Linked DNA regions of Homo sapiens: region 2 is reported to be linked to region 1. Evidence: microRNA targets listed by miRTarBase, many of them from high-throughput screens and not tested one by one. Region 1 holds a microRNA gene; the other region holds the end of a gene's coding sequence.
The links. Region 1 holds the annotated microRNA hsa-miR-4279 (CUCUCCUCCCGGCUUC, at 2,237-2,252, shown strand). A microRNA usually pairs through its seed, bases 2 to 8, with sites in the 3' UTR of a target mRNA and lowers its output. Matches are read on the target gene's strand: a 7mer-m8 pairs with bases 2 to 8, a 7mer-A1 pairs with bases 2 to 7 and ends in A, and an 8mer does both.

Region 1 (7,126 bases):
TTGGAGGCGATGGCACCAATACAGACTAAGAAACTAAAATCAGTTTCCCAAACAAGAGCCCATTCAAATTGCTGAGGGCTTAACTTGCTGCATCAACCCACTGATCACATTATTCACCAATGATATTAAAAAATCAACAGGTCAAGGTGGAGTGCTGGGAGCAGTGGCTCACACCTGTAATCCTAGCACTTTGGGAGGCCGAGGTGGGCAGATCACTTGAGGTCAAAAGTTTGACACCAATCTGGCCAACAGAGTGAAACTCTGTCTCTAAATGGGGGCGGAAATCAACAGACCAACCAGCAAACCAGCAAATGTTTTTTTCTAAAGATCGGATAGGCTTTGTGGGTCACTATCTCTGTCCTATATTCTTCTTTGTTTCTTCAACTCTTCAAAACATAAAACACATTCTTAGCTCCCAGGCCATACAAAAACAGGCTAGGGCAGTCTGGATTTGCCTAAGGGCCATAGCTTGCTGAACACCGCTTCCAGCAGGAACCCTGGGAAGGAACCTGTCCCCAACACAGCTTCTAAGTCACTGCAGATAGCACCTGGGACAGATCAGTCTGAAGGATGGGAGACAAAGGGGACACACACAACAGGTGAACAGTAGGCAAGAAAGGACAAGAGTTGGGGTGGCGACGGTAGGAACATGGGGTGAAAAAGTTTTCTAAAAGACCACAGGAGGTGCCGTTCCTCCTCCCATAGAAGGCTAGCTGTGTAATGCTGAGAAATCACACGGAAAGAGAGACTAGCAATGATGTGTGGGCTTGCTTGACTAAACACAGCCATCCCCCAGCCCTCCAGGACTAAAATGCAAAGCCACAAAACGTGGCCACCACGGCATGAGGATGACCACAGCATGAGGATGCCAGCCAGGCAGTAAGCAGTAACCCAAGCAGCTCCCAATTTTGCCTTTTCAGACACACCCCTGTGGCTACGGGGCATTCTCCAAACCTCAACGCAAACAGTTCCAGGATTCAGGCTGGGCTATTCTACCGAAACAAAATTCTCCACCTACCTCTGACGTTCTTCTCAGGCTGACCACACGCACCATTTCTATCCAACCTCCTCCATGTTAGCCCAATCCCCCAACACCCTGGCCACTTCATTAGTGAGGGAAAACATGTCAGATCATCCCAGTGCCCAGGAGAAGCAAGGCCTAGAAATGATTCAGAACCTGGGGCTGGAGATGATCTTTATTCTGTTCTACTTCTCTTATCACAAGCCCCAAACCTTGACAACGGAAGGAACACCCTGAGACTCGGCTACAATCATGGGAATCAAAAATCAGTTTTAAAATTATCCTTGCATGTGGCTGCCACCCATGGTCCTCCCCATTTATTTTCTACTTCTGAGTGTGAAACGTCACTGTGACAGTTTCCAACCCTCTGCACTCCCCCCACTCCATGACAAATATTCAGGATTCACACTTCACTTTCACACTGCTTTCCAATCCCTTGACTTAGAAGCCGAGCAGAGGCAGCCTGCCTTAATGGAGAAAACATTAGTGCATTCGGGCTTCACTCTGGATCCCAGTCAATTTCTGGATATTTCACAGCTGTTATACATCCACCTCCTTTCTTACAAAAGCCAGCAAAAATTAGTGAGCACCTCGTTGGCTCTGAAATATGAAAATGGAGCCACAGTCAAGCCTGAAAATCGGTTTCTGGTTGACTCCCTTCAAAGTATTTGTTCTAAAACACAGTGTCTGCAGTTCATTTATCATCTGCCAATTTTTAAATGAGTTTAAATTAAAAAAGCTTCAATGCTGCATGCTTTTTTTCTTTTTTTTTTTTTAAAGCAACTCTCAGAATAAAACTGTCATTTGGTCATCACACTAGTAACTGAGAGAACTCTTGCTTGGGCAGATATCAGCACAATTCAAGCTGAGTCTTTTATGTTATTATTACCTGCTCATCTCTCATATAATTAAAAAATAATAAACCCTTGGAAGACCTGTAAGTTGTGTTCAGAGAGAAAATGTGATTCTCTTCACCACTCAGGTCTCCCGTCCTACCTGCTTTATGAGCTGGTCAGGTGAGCGTGCTCTGCTGTGCTTCAGCAGCCTCTGGAATGGGACAGACTCCAAAGTTGGTTGTGCTTCACTTCCCTTCTCCATTCAGGTCTTTAAAGTCCTGGGTTATTAACTATCAACAAAAATACAAGCTGCGCCATGCGTGCTCCAACTTCCTGCCAGCTCCCCATGCTCTGTGGAGCTGAGGAGCAGATTCTCTCTCTCTCCTCCCGGCTTCACCTCCTGAGCTCCAGAGCCCCACCCACCCACAGCACTCAGATCATTTTTCATTTATGAATGCATCCAGCCACGCTGTGTTTGTAAGAGAAGGAGCCAATCCTTGCCCTGCCAGTGTATTGGAACCAGGCTGCTATAAACGGTTCTAATTTTCCAGGAGTATGGGGGGAAATCATATCCCAGCAGACATCATGCATGGCTTCCTCCTGCAGGTATCTGCAGATCAGCTCTTCCATCACCAAAGGACGCACACTTGGCCACGGACCACAGCTGCTTCATTCTACAGACTGCCAGGGAGGAGGACTGAAGATTTCAGGCAGGAGAAAACCAAAATACTATCAAAATGTGTACTTCACATAACTAAAAATGTGAAGCTAGGATGATCAGTGAAGAAACTTTCCACTCAGTGACCTGATATTTCACAATACATTTAATCTGTCTTGCACTTATTAAAGGGCCAGATTTTTTTTTAAATTGCATCCAAATGCAAACAAAAATCAAGGGGTTAAATTATTTTATAAAGAAGTCTGTTGGGAAATAAAAGCCATTTGTCTTGATGACACCAAATTTACAACTTTTCTACTCCGACTAAGCTTCCAACTTCCATTGTAGACAAGTACTAGCAAAACCAGAAATTATCAGTCAGCCCTTGAGTTGCTGAAAAAATCCTCAACTTTTAAACACAATATGATTTTTCTAAGGTTTTATCAGGAAATAGAATGTTAAAAAATAGGCTTCCCTAAACCAACACACATATATAGTAGTTTCTATTATGGGTAAAATTTGCCTTGTTTTACAGCTGAAGCCAAAGGGGTCTTTCATGATCCAACAGCCAGAGACAAAGATTCCAAAAACCTTTGGTGCAGGTATAAAAATGTACATGTGCAACTTAAATGGGAATGACATTTTATTATTCCAATACTCACAAGGTCCTTTGTTAGCTATACTTGTAAGGAACAAAATAGGAGCAAACATCCTCTGTTTACTTCTTGCAGCCATTCTATTTTCTTTCTTTTTTTTTTTTTGAGACAGGGTCTGGCTCTGTTGCCCAGGTGGGAGTGCAGTGGAGTAATCTCGGCCCACTGCAACCTCCATCTTCCGGGTTCAAGAGATTCTCCTGCCTCAACCTCCTGGAGTAGCTGGGATTACAGGCGCCCGCCACCATGCCCAGATATTTTTTGTATTTTTAGTAGAGATGGGGTTTCACCATGTTGGTCAAGCTGGTCTCAAACTCCTGGTCTCAAGTGATCTGCCCATCTCGGCCTCCCAAAGTTCTGGGATTACAGGTGTGAGCCACCACTGCTGGCCAGATTTTTGGTGTTTTTTAGTATATTCATTTATTTTAGAGTTTTATCCAGTATAAATTTTTCCCCTAGGAGCCTTGTATTGACATAACCTAGTTCCAGTCACAGTGAGACATTTTTGAAATTGCTTCTAAATTTTCCATGTATTAAAAAACTGGTGGTCTAGTATCCGGACTTAAGTCTTTTTTTTTTTTTTTTTTTAATTAGATGGTTCAAATGTCTCCTAAACAGAAAATGCTATACATTTTCTCATGTGCTCCAAATGGATTCTAGCCATCCCAATACCCTAACACATTCTTGAAAACAAAAACAGGATCCGCCTTTTACTGATGAGATAAAGAAGACAGAAAGTCACTAGTATATATGATGTTTCCCTGGTGCGGCAGAGAAAGAACTAATGGGAGGATTAGTTCCTAGTCTCCAAACACCAGCAGGGAGCCCCAGGCAAGTCCACATTTTTTGTGTGCATTCAAGAGGCCTGAAAGTTGATCGTGTGGGTAACTTCCTGGAACTCACCTTCCTAGTTCAGGAAAGCGTGGACTCCTGCTCACAGTTCAAGCTAAGGAGAAGGAAGTCTGCTCTTTAGCTTTTTTTTCTTTTAAAAGAAGTGAGGGAAAAAGATTAAAATTGCCTTGGCCTGTGACCAAACTGCAGTCCTAACAAGAGGTAAAATTTGCCTATAAAATATTCCTGACAGTATTAGTTGGTGACATCTGCCAAAAATCTATGGTAAAACCAGTTATCCTGCCTCTCTTTGTCCCATTCTCTCAACGAAGGGTGGATAATATATAACATATAGTTTTGCTTTAAGGGGAATTACTGCTACATTTACTCACAAAACGAGCCACGTAGCATACACCAGAATTCAGCAAGTACACAAGCCACCTAACCGACCCAAGTTTCTGAATTGCATTATCCATGACAGGCATCTGGGGCTCTGCCTTCTTCGTGTCCACCTTGGTTCCTTGGTCACTGGGCTTAGGAGACCACTGTGCACTCACTGTCCATCACCCGGGAGGGACCCTGAAGATCACTGAGTTCTACTTTCTCATTGCGTTCGTGTGGAAACAGAGGCCCACAGGAACATGAGGAAGCTTTCCAACATCACAGGGCACATTAGTGGAAGTACTGAGGTTACAACGTAAATCTTCCTGATTCAAACTCTAAGATGGTGCCAAGGGGACAAGGTGTGGATCTTTGTAGGCAGGGGCTCAGTAATGGCTGTCCAGCGGGTCACAAAGCCCAGCCTAGGGACACACCTAAGATTCTCCCAGAAGCTAAAACAGAAAGGTAACAAAGAGGGCAATCCCAGAAATCCCCAGCAGGAGTCGATCATACAGCAAAAGCCAAGGGACACCCCAGGTATAAACCCAAGAACCGAAAGCAGACACACGAATGGATATTCACACCCTCGATATTTGTAGCAGCACTGTCCACTCAATAACCAAAAGGTGGAAGCCATCTAAGCATCCACTGATGGATGAATGGATACAGAAAATGTGATACATATGTACAATGGAATACTATTCAGCCGTAAAAAGGAAGGAAATTCTGACACATGCTACTACTTGGATGAGTTTTGAAAAGAAACTATGCTGGCCGGGCGCAGTGGCTCATGGCCTGTAATCCTAGCACTTTGGGAGACCGAGGTGGGTGGATCACTTGAGGTCAGGAGTTCGAGACCAGCCTGGCCAACATGGTGAAACCCCGTCTCTACTAAAAATACAAAAATTGGCCAGGCGTGGTGGCACACATCTGTAATCCCAGCTACTCGGGAGGATGAGGCATGAGAATCACTTGAACCCTGGAGGCAGAGGTTGCAGTGAGCCGAGATTGCACCATAGCACTCCAGCCTGGGCAACAAGAGCGAAACTCTGTCTTAAAAACAAGAAAAAAAAAAAAAGGACACTATGCTAAGTGAAATAAGCCAGTTATAAAAGGACAAACCCTATATGATTTTAATCGTATGAGGCACTCAGAATAGTAAAATTCACAGAGACAGAAAGTAGAATGGTGGTTGCCAGGGGCTGGGGAGAGGAGGAATGGGAAGTTACTGCTTAATGGATCCAGAGTTTCAGTTTTGCAAGAGGAAAAGCCTTCTGGAGATGGATAGTGGTGATGGTTACACAACAGTGTGAATGTACTTAATGCCACAAAACTATACATTTAAATTTATTAAAATGAGAACTTTTATATTAAGTGTGTGAAGTCAATGGAGCCTGGATTTTCTTTCTTTCTTTCTTTCTTTCTTTCTTTTTTTGAGGCAGAGTCTTGCTCTGTCGCCCAGGCTGGAGTGCAGTGGTGCAATCTTGGCTCACTGCAGCCTCCGCCTCCTGGGTTCCAGCGATTCTCCTGCCTCAGCCTCCCGGGTACCTGGGATTACAGGCACACGCCACCACGCCTAGCTAATTTTTGTATTTTTAGTAGAGACGGAGTTTCACCATGTTGGCCAGGCTGGTCTCGAACTCCTGACCTCAGGTGATCTGCCTGCCTCGGCCTCCTAAAGTACAAGGATTACAGGCATGAGCCACTGCACCCGGTTTGGTTTTCTTTACATTTTCTCATTGGCCAGTTCTATGGCTATCATGCTTCATATGCTTGATGTCACAAAATGAAAAGACCATAAAATGCAATTCATAAATGGTCTTAAAAACAACAGGAAGCACTAACATTTCCTTCTCCCCTTTTCCCATCCCCCAGTCAAAAATCACACACAGAAAGTTATGAAAGCAAACAAGGTTTGTTTTCCTGCCCCTTGATGGGAGATGATAATGTCAGCACTGATGGGGAACACCCTGCCAATTGTGCAAGCGGGGAGGACCTTGGCCTGCAAATTTGGGGAGGCAGCTCCCTTCCAACTTCTGCCATTAATGGAAAGGGTTCAGAATCACACCTGAGAAAGCTCCGTGCGGCTGTGGCCCACCCCTCCCCTCCCATCCAGCCCTCCTGGAGTTCACACACCCTCAACTCACACAACGCCGGCAGCATACACTGACACCATCATGCTCTGGGGCCTTCATTGTATACAGATCTGTTTCTTAGCTGTCAAATCTGTCCCATGAGCCATAAGCCTCTAGTGGACAGAGCTGCCTCCAGCTCTCTGGCCCCCTTTTCAGTCTCATTCCTCCTGCCAGGCCAGGGTGGGCCTTGGAGGGGTACCAGCTTCTTCGTTCCTCCCTCCTGTCACCTGGATTATCCCATCTACTTCCATAGCTACAGCAACCAAGTAAGAGCCACCAGCTCCTCAATCTCCATCTCTCTTCTGAGCTCAGACCCTCAACTCCTGCCCAGCTGCAGCTGGGTGTCCTGCAGCCACCTCAAACTCAGCCTGCCCTAAAAAATCTACTATGCGGCCAGGCACAGCGCCTCACGCCTGTAATTCCAGTACTTTGGGAGGTCAAGGCAGGTGGATCACTTGATGTCAGGAGTTCGAAACCAGTCTGGCCAACATGGTGAAACCCCGTCTCTACTAAAAATACAAAAATTAGCCAGGCATAGTGGTGTACGCCTGTCATCCCAGCTACTCAGGAGGCTGAGGCAGGTGGATCACTTGATGTCAGGCGTTCGAAAC
Region 2 (7,124 bases), not on the chromosome of region 1:
AGTAGGCAGAAGAAAAGATTAACTATTGAGGAAAAAAAAATCAAATGAGTTCTGACTTTCCCAAAATGTTCAGATGTCATTGGTGGCTTTAATTTTAAACTTCCTCTTGTCTCTTCATCTGGAGCAATAATCTTCCAGTTACAATTTCCTCAGTCACCATAAATATTTTCAATTTTCAATGTGGTCTAAATATTTTCTCCCATTTTTAAGATACACATTGCTACTTCTTCACTCCATTGAGCTTGAATATATTAATCTCTGCCAGAGTATAGACAGACCAAGAACATATAAGCTGCTAACAAGTATCATATATGTCTGTGACTAGGATGTTATTAGTGTATATTCTAAGAATGTCCTGAGCATACCTGACATCATGCTTCATGGTGTCAAAAGATAAAGAACCATGCATTCGAATTAAGAATCGAGACTTGCTGGGTGGCATGGACTGGATTTTTTTGATAAGTAAGATTAATATGTGATTTCAGAACGTTTTGATGCAATTATTATAATCTTAAATCACTATGATATAATAGAACAGAGGTTTCTGAACACAACCTTTATTTGATCATTTTAGTATATATTTTTTTGCCCATTCGTATATTTATTTCACCAGGTCAGAATACTTACAATGCATCAAGCTTCATGTGAATTACCAGGAATTCACAAATGTATAAAATATCAAGGAACTTAGCATCTAATGAGGGAGACACATGTAAATAAATAAAGTTTAACTTACGTGATACATAAAGTTAAGTGATCAATAGTAATTTTGTCAAGTTACTGTTGTTTCTCAGGTATTACTGGTTTTATACAGAAAGCATTGTATACAGAAAATATATAAGCATGGCACAATAGACCGTCCAGTGTCCTTGTCCCGTCTCAGAGGACTCCGAATATCCCCTATATCACAATACAAATAACATAGCCGAGGGGTCGAAAAGACAAAACAATTCCATGGGATGAATTAAAGCAGGCAACTGATAGGGTTGAGAGCATATTCGAGCCTCTGCGTGTCCTCACATGGCCTCTTCTCTGTACACGTGCAGAATGAGCCAGCTCCGGTGGCTCTTCCTCTTCTTGTAATGACAGCAGACCTATAGGATTAGGGCCTCACCTTTATGATCTCATGTAACCTTAATTGCCTCCCTATGGGACCTGCCTCTGAACACAGACACACTGGAGATCAGTGCTTCAAAATATGAATTCTGAAGGGATACAATTTAGTCATAACACATTCCCTAGCCCCCCGCCCCAGCCATAATACATTTACACTCCTGGCCTCCATAGGCCATATGCATAGTAACACTAAATTACTCGAGTTACCTGAATTGCCCACATTTGTTCCTCCATGGTGTTGCTTGTGCTTTTCTCTCTGCTAACTTCTCCTTGCTTCCCTGCCTGCCAAACCTTCAGCTCAACCTTATCTGTGAAGCTTTCCCTGACTTTAGGAAGAATTATTGTAACTCGTATATAATATCCAGTATGGCATTATCATATTAAATATTTGATGGTAGATGCTCAATACATATTAATATTTTTGAACATATGAATGACTTAATATTTGACAAGACTTCCCAATATTGCTGAACTCTGAAGCCAGTTCCCCATTAAGTTATATTCATGGAATACTGCTATGCAATTATGTCTTTCCCTCCAAACTTGATATATGAAGTAAGAGACAGGGGCTTTTGCCTAAGACTTTCAGGGAGAAATTTAATTGAGGAAGTATCTAATAATAAACATTATTGCTAATTTTATATTTTCAGTCCGTATCTCAATCTTATTTCCTGAAGATGAAGAATTTTTAGTTAGGAAAGACAGTGATGTTATTTAAAATAAAAAGGATAAAACAGGCACATCTGGGAAACCCAGACTCCCTAATGATGTGGAACACCTTCTCCAAAATGACCTATAAATCCATTGTAGCATTACTCAAACCCTGCTTAGTGTCCCCTTGGATTGCTGCAGTCCATACAATTTCAGGTCATAGATCAGTGTATATTCCAGATATTGAGGGTGCAATCAGATTTTCAAGTTCATACCCTGTGTTCACTGCCTAGCACTGTCAATTGGAACATATGGCCCAGATAATAGAAAAATTTAGGTGCTAACACCTCACTAATAAAAGGAACTGTCCAATGACCTTGATAATGTGGAACTCATAACATCTCATTGTACTTACAATGTAACAGGTGACTTACTGACATGGATGATACTTCTTATGATCTGAAACAGGCAGTCTGAGCTTAGAAATAAATATTAGCTGTGTTACCTTAGGCAAATTTGTTACTCTGTGGCTCCCTTTCCTCATCTTAAAACAGAAATAAAGCCTACCTCTCAGGACCACTGTGAAGATTAAATGAATTAATATATGCAAAATACTTAGAATAGTATCTGACATTTAGTAAACATTGAAATGTTAGCTATTATGATTATTATTGAAGTGTTGCTTACTTAGAATTTGTCCTACTTAAGTGTACTCCAATGAACAAGCCTGCAGTCTTAGAATTCCACATAGACTTCAAAGATTACAACCAACCAGGGAAGGATACTTCTCATATGAAAACCAAAACCCATCAACTCCATTAGCTATTATTCTTTTAGAGTTGAAAATATTTGTACAATGCTGCTATTAGGGTGTTTCTTTAGAAAAGACAGTATATAATCTTTCAATGCATACATAGAATTCTCAAATTTCTAGAATTACAAGTCATATATAAATTCTAAAAACATCTGAGGATATTAATTTTCAAGACCCATAACTGGAGTCTTTTTCTTGGTGTAGTCCTGATGTCAGTAAACTTCCTAGGCCATGCTAACCATGGGAACTATTCTTGGCTTGCAGCTCCAGTTCAGCAGTGATTTGGTGAGATATCTGTGGCAATCATTGTCAGCAGAACCTTATTTCTTCTTCTCCCTCTGCCGCATTGACAAAACACCGTTATCAGTTTCACTTGGGCTGGTCACAAAAACTTGGAAACATTGTACTTCAGTCTAAGTGAGAGAGGAATTCGGCAACTTTCCCTACTGCAGTACATGATTACTCATTCCTTTCAGGCATTCAGGTGAAAAATCTGGAGTCAACCTTTACTCCTTCTCTTATGTTCGTACCTCACATCCAGTTTACAGAAATCCTGTGGCTCTACCTAAAAAAAAGCCGCCAGAAACCAATCCCGTTTTATTACCTCCAAGGCTACTCCTGGACTAAGACATCATAATATCTCACCTTGATTATTGTAATACTTTTTTTTTTTTTGAGAAGGAGTCTCGCTCTGTCGCCCAGGCTGGAGTGCAGTGGCACGATCTCGGCTCACTGCAACCTCCGCCTCCTGGGTTCAAGCGATTCTCCTGCCTCAGCCTCTTCAGTAGCTGAGATTAGAGGTATGTGCCACCATGCCAGGCTAATATATATATTATATATTTATTAATATATTTATGATTTATATATAAATACATATTTATATATTAATAAATATATACTCCTGACCTCAGATGATCCGCCTGCCTTGGCTCCCAAAGTGCTGGGATTGCAGGTGCGAACCACCGCCCCCGGCCTATTGTTAATACTCTTTTTAACTGGTCTCCCAGCTTCCTCCCTTACTTACCACCCACCTTACGGTCTATTCTCAACATAGGAGCCAATATGATTATTTCAAAAGTTAAGTCACATCAGGCTACGTTTCTTCTGAAAACCTTTCCATATAGCTCCCAGTCAAGTGTCTTACAAAAAAGCTTTATGATCCTAAGCTTTTAGCTCCCTCACCAGCCTTTCTCCTGCTTTTACCCTCTGACCTGATTTCTGTCTACCTGTTGGGAATGCTCTTCCTCCATGTATGTATCTGCATACTAGTTACTCTTTTCCTTCTTTGCTCAAATGTTACCTCAGGGAGGTCTATCCTGGCTATTCTATTGAAATATGCATATGTCTGTACACACCTAAGCATCTCCTATCCTGTCCTCAATGTTTCCTCCATAGCATTTATCACTATTTAATACAGAAGTTCCCATAGTGTGGTCCCCAGAACTTTCTAGCAAGTTCGCAGGTGATGCTGATGCCGGTCGTCCAGAGACACCTTTGAGAACCGGTTTGAGGAGAATCTCTTTTCTCAGACTTGCAATATTTCTGATTTGGGTAGAGCTAAACCACTCGAACTTTAGGGACCACCTTAAGTGTCTCTTAAAACTCAGAAGGCTGGGACCCATCCCTAGAGTTTCTGATTGGGTAGGACAGGTGGGGCCCAAAATTTGTATTTCTAATCACACTCGGAGAGCCACTGATTAAATGTAATGTATATTTTATTATCTATTTCCTCCCTTTTAGAATGTAAACTCTATGAGGGAGGGACTTTTTTTCCTGCTGTTTCTGCTTTCAAAGAACAATACCAGGCATATAGTAGCCATTCAGTAAATATATATGGAAGGAATAAATGAAAATTGCTAATCCTACTGTTACATCAGAACACATCTCCTAATTTTATTTTAAGATTTTATAGGAAAAAATACAAATACAAAGTTAACAAACATTGTATAGTTCAATCCCCTCATGCAAGAAGGCGTTTTTAAGCACTGGGCCACATAGACAACTGGGATTTCCTGATATTAGGGAAATAAATTATTAACAATTTACATTATTAGAGCATTAGTATTGACACTAAACATTTATGAAATGCTACCATGCGCTAAGCACTTCAGGTACTGTATCTCTTTTAATTCTTGTAACTATTGAGATGGCTAGTGGTGTCATTTCCATTTTACAGAGAAGGGCTCTGTCACACCATGCAGCCCACTACCAGCGGACTCCGTAGTTTCTATATTGTCTCCTTCCCTCTATGTGCTCTCCCAATTGGGAACCAGAAGGTAGGGTATAAAATAGGAGGTGATGCGTTTACTTTTCAGTGTCCAGGCATATCAAGGTTTGAATTAAAATTTGCTGAACATCATGTAACACTAAAGGTCATCCTGGCCATCTTTCTATTCGTAATAACATTCTAAAGAGCATTGGATTTCTAGATGCAAATGTGGAACCCTACAAATGTTCATACCTCTTGTAAAAGATAGGAAAATGTTTTTTAGGAGGCATGTTGTTTGGGGACTTTTTTGTGAGGATTTAGAACAGTTTAGTCAGTCTGAATATTTATTCTACCAAACCCTGTACAATAGCATTACATTTATGCAGAAAATAATGGATATAAATGATTATGAGTTAGTGATTTGTTTTTTCCCAAAAGGCCATTAGACTAGGTGTCTTAACTTTTTCTTAGAGGGCCAAATAGTAAATGTTTTTAGACTTGCAAGCCATACAACTCTGCAGTTGTGGAAAGCAACCACAGACAAAACATAAATGAATGAGTGTAGGCTTGTTTCAAAGAAACTTTATTTACGTAACAGGTGGCCAATCCATGGGCCAAAGCTTGCTGACCCTTGTGTTTAAAGATTCCCATCTTAGTAGCATGAATAAAATGGACCAGATAAATTTCAGTTAACTTTGTCAAATTTATCTTAAAAAACAAAAAACAAAAAACCTGTTTCTTCCTATAGAAACACCCATATTCCTATAAATAAAAATGACTTTTAAAAAAGACAATCCTAGCAGGCAAATAAAAACAGACATTTGTCTTTGTAGTAAGTTGAATTAGCTAAACGAATCCTTGTATTTATTTTTCACACAGCACAAATGCAGGTAGTACACAGTAAGTTCATAATTCCCCACAAAACTTATAAACTTAACAAATGGGAATCTAAACATAATATTCTGAATCACCCATAGCTATCCACTGTGTGGAATCCATTCTACAGCAGCAGAGGAGTACCTTAATTTAAAGCACCAAGTTTCCAGGCATTACTACAAATATCTTCTTTTCATTCTCTAATACATGCAGTCAAACTGCCTATGAAGCAAATACCAATTCATCTTACGCTTTAACAGATAAGGTAAAGCACTTGGGAAATCAACATTATTCTTAAGTCTGAAAGTGATTCTACCTCTTTACCTTATTATATTTTCTCCCATGAAATTTTAAACTTTTAATGGAGTTATATTTAATATGAGAATAAATTAAAATTTGAACTTAATGTCTTTTCAGATTCATCCAGCAGTTTAGAATGTTTATATTTGTTTTATGTCTTGAGGGAAACAAAAACGTAATTTCTAATTTAGAATATTCTGGCTATCTTTATTAAAAGTTACATTTATAATTTTATAGCAAAGTAATATCATCTGTTTGTCCAAACATTACAGATTTTAAAAAATTCCCCTAATGTATGTAAATACAAAGCTTATTCCCAGTACACATTTTATAGAGGTGTGTTTTCATTTTTTGAAGCAGGGTTCAATGGACATTTTTAGGGTCTTGCTAACATCAGCCCTATATACTCAGAGACGATTGAATCTAGTAAATGGACAATGAAAACTGGTTGAGGCTGCTGATGAATGCTTCAATAAAAATCTGATACACACAGATTTCATTGTCATATTCAACAAAACCAAGTCTTCCTTAAAACTGTGATCCTGATAGGCTGAAGATAGAGTAATGGACTGTTAGTTCCTCATGCCAAAAATACATGGGTCTGTCATACAAAGGCTTCATTCTCTGCCTGTCGTCAGTAACTTGAGAGCCTTTTGTAGATTCTGGACAGCAGTGCTTACATCTTCATACTGCAAAGCACTGCCAGCATATTTGCAGTACTTCTGAGCTCTAGCAAAGTCTTCTGGGGTTAGACGAACATCCCCTAGAAGAAAAAGAACAATTGGGATATTTATAAGAATATAAAAAGTGTTCTGTAAGGTTGGGCAAATGCTTATGCTTAAGATTAAAAAACATATTTAAGGCTATGTAAAAACAGTAGTTTTAGTCAATCTCACATGAACTTTGATACATTTTCTTCATTCTTTTCAATTGTCTTTTTATTACTAATATAAACCACAGACACGGCAATACATAATAACTTAGATGAATTAAGATTTTCCTTCAAGAAGCAATAAGGACAAACAAGGATAGCAGCTTTGGTGTCTATGCTAAAATCACTTAGCCTCTCTCTTCATGGAACAATACACACAGACTAAACCAATTCAACCCTCATTTGAGCTGGAATGTAAGTATCACCTTCAATAAAAAAAAAGTGAA

Region 2: the mRNA of VTA1 is a reported target of hsa-miR-4279. Seed matches in the 3' UTR shown: 7mer-A1 at 3,770-3,776, 7mer-A1 at 3,344-3,350 and 7mer-A1 at 1,381-1,387.

What each region holds. Positions count from the first base shown.
Region 1 is chr5:31,931,238-31,938,363 of GRCh38, reverse strand. MIR4279 (microRNA 4279) reads left to right here and starts at 2,205; the gene lies at 2,205-2,262. All of the region lies in intron 2 of PDZD2 (PDZ domain containing 2), which reads right to left.
Region 2 is chr6:142,218,103-142,225,226 of GRCh38, reverse strand. VTA1 (vesicle trafficking 1) reads right to left here. Exons shown (of 8, transcript NM_016485.5): 8 at 542-6,729. The coding sequence ends at 6,584. Among named protein-coding and RNA genes, the nearest start is that of LINC02919, 38 kb to the left of the region's middle.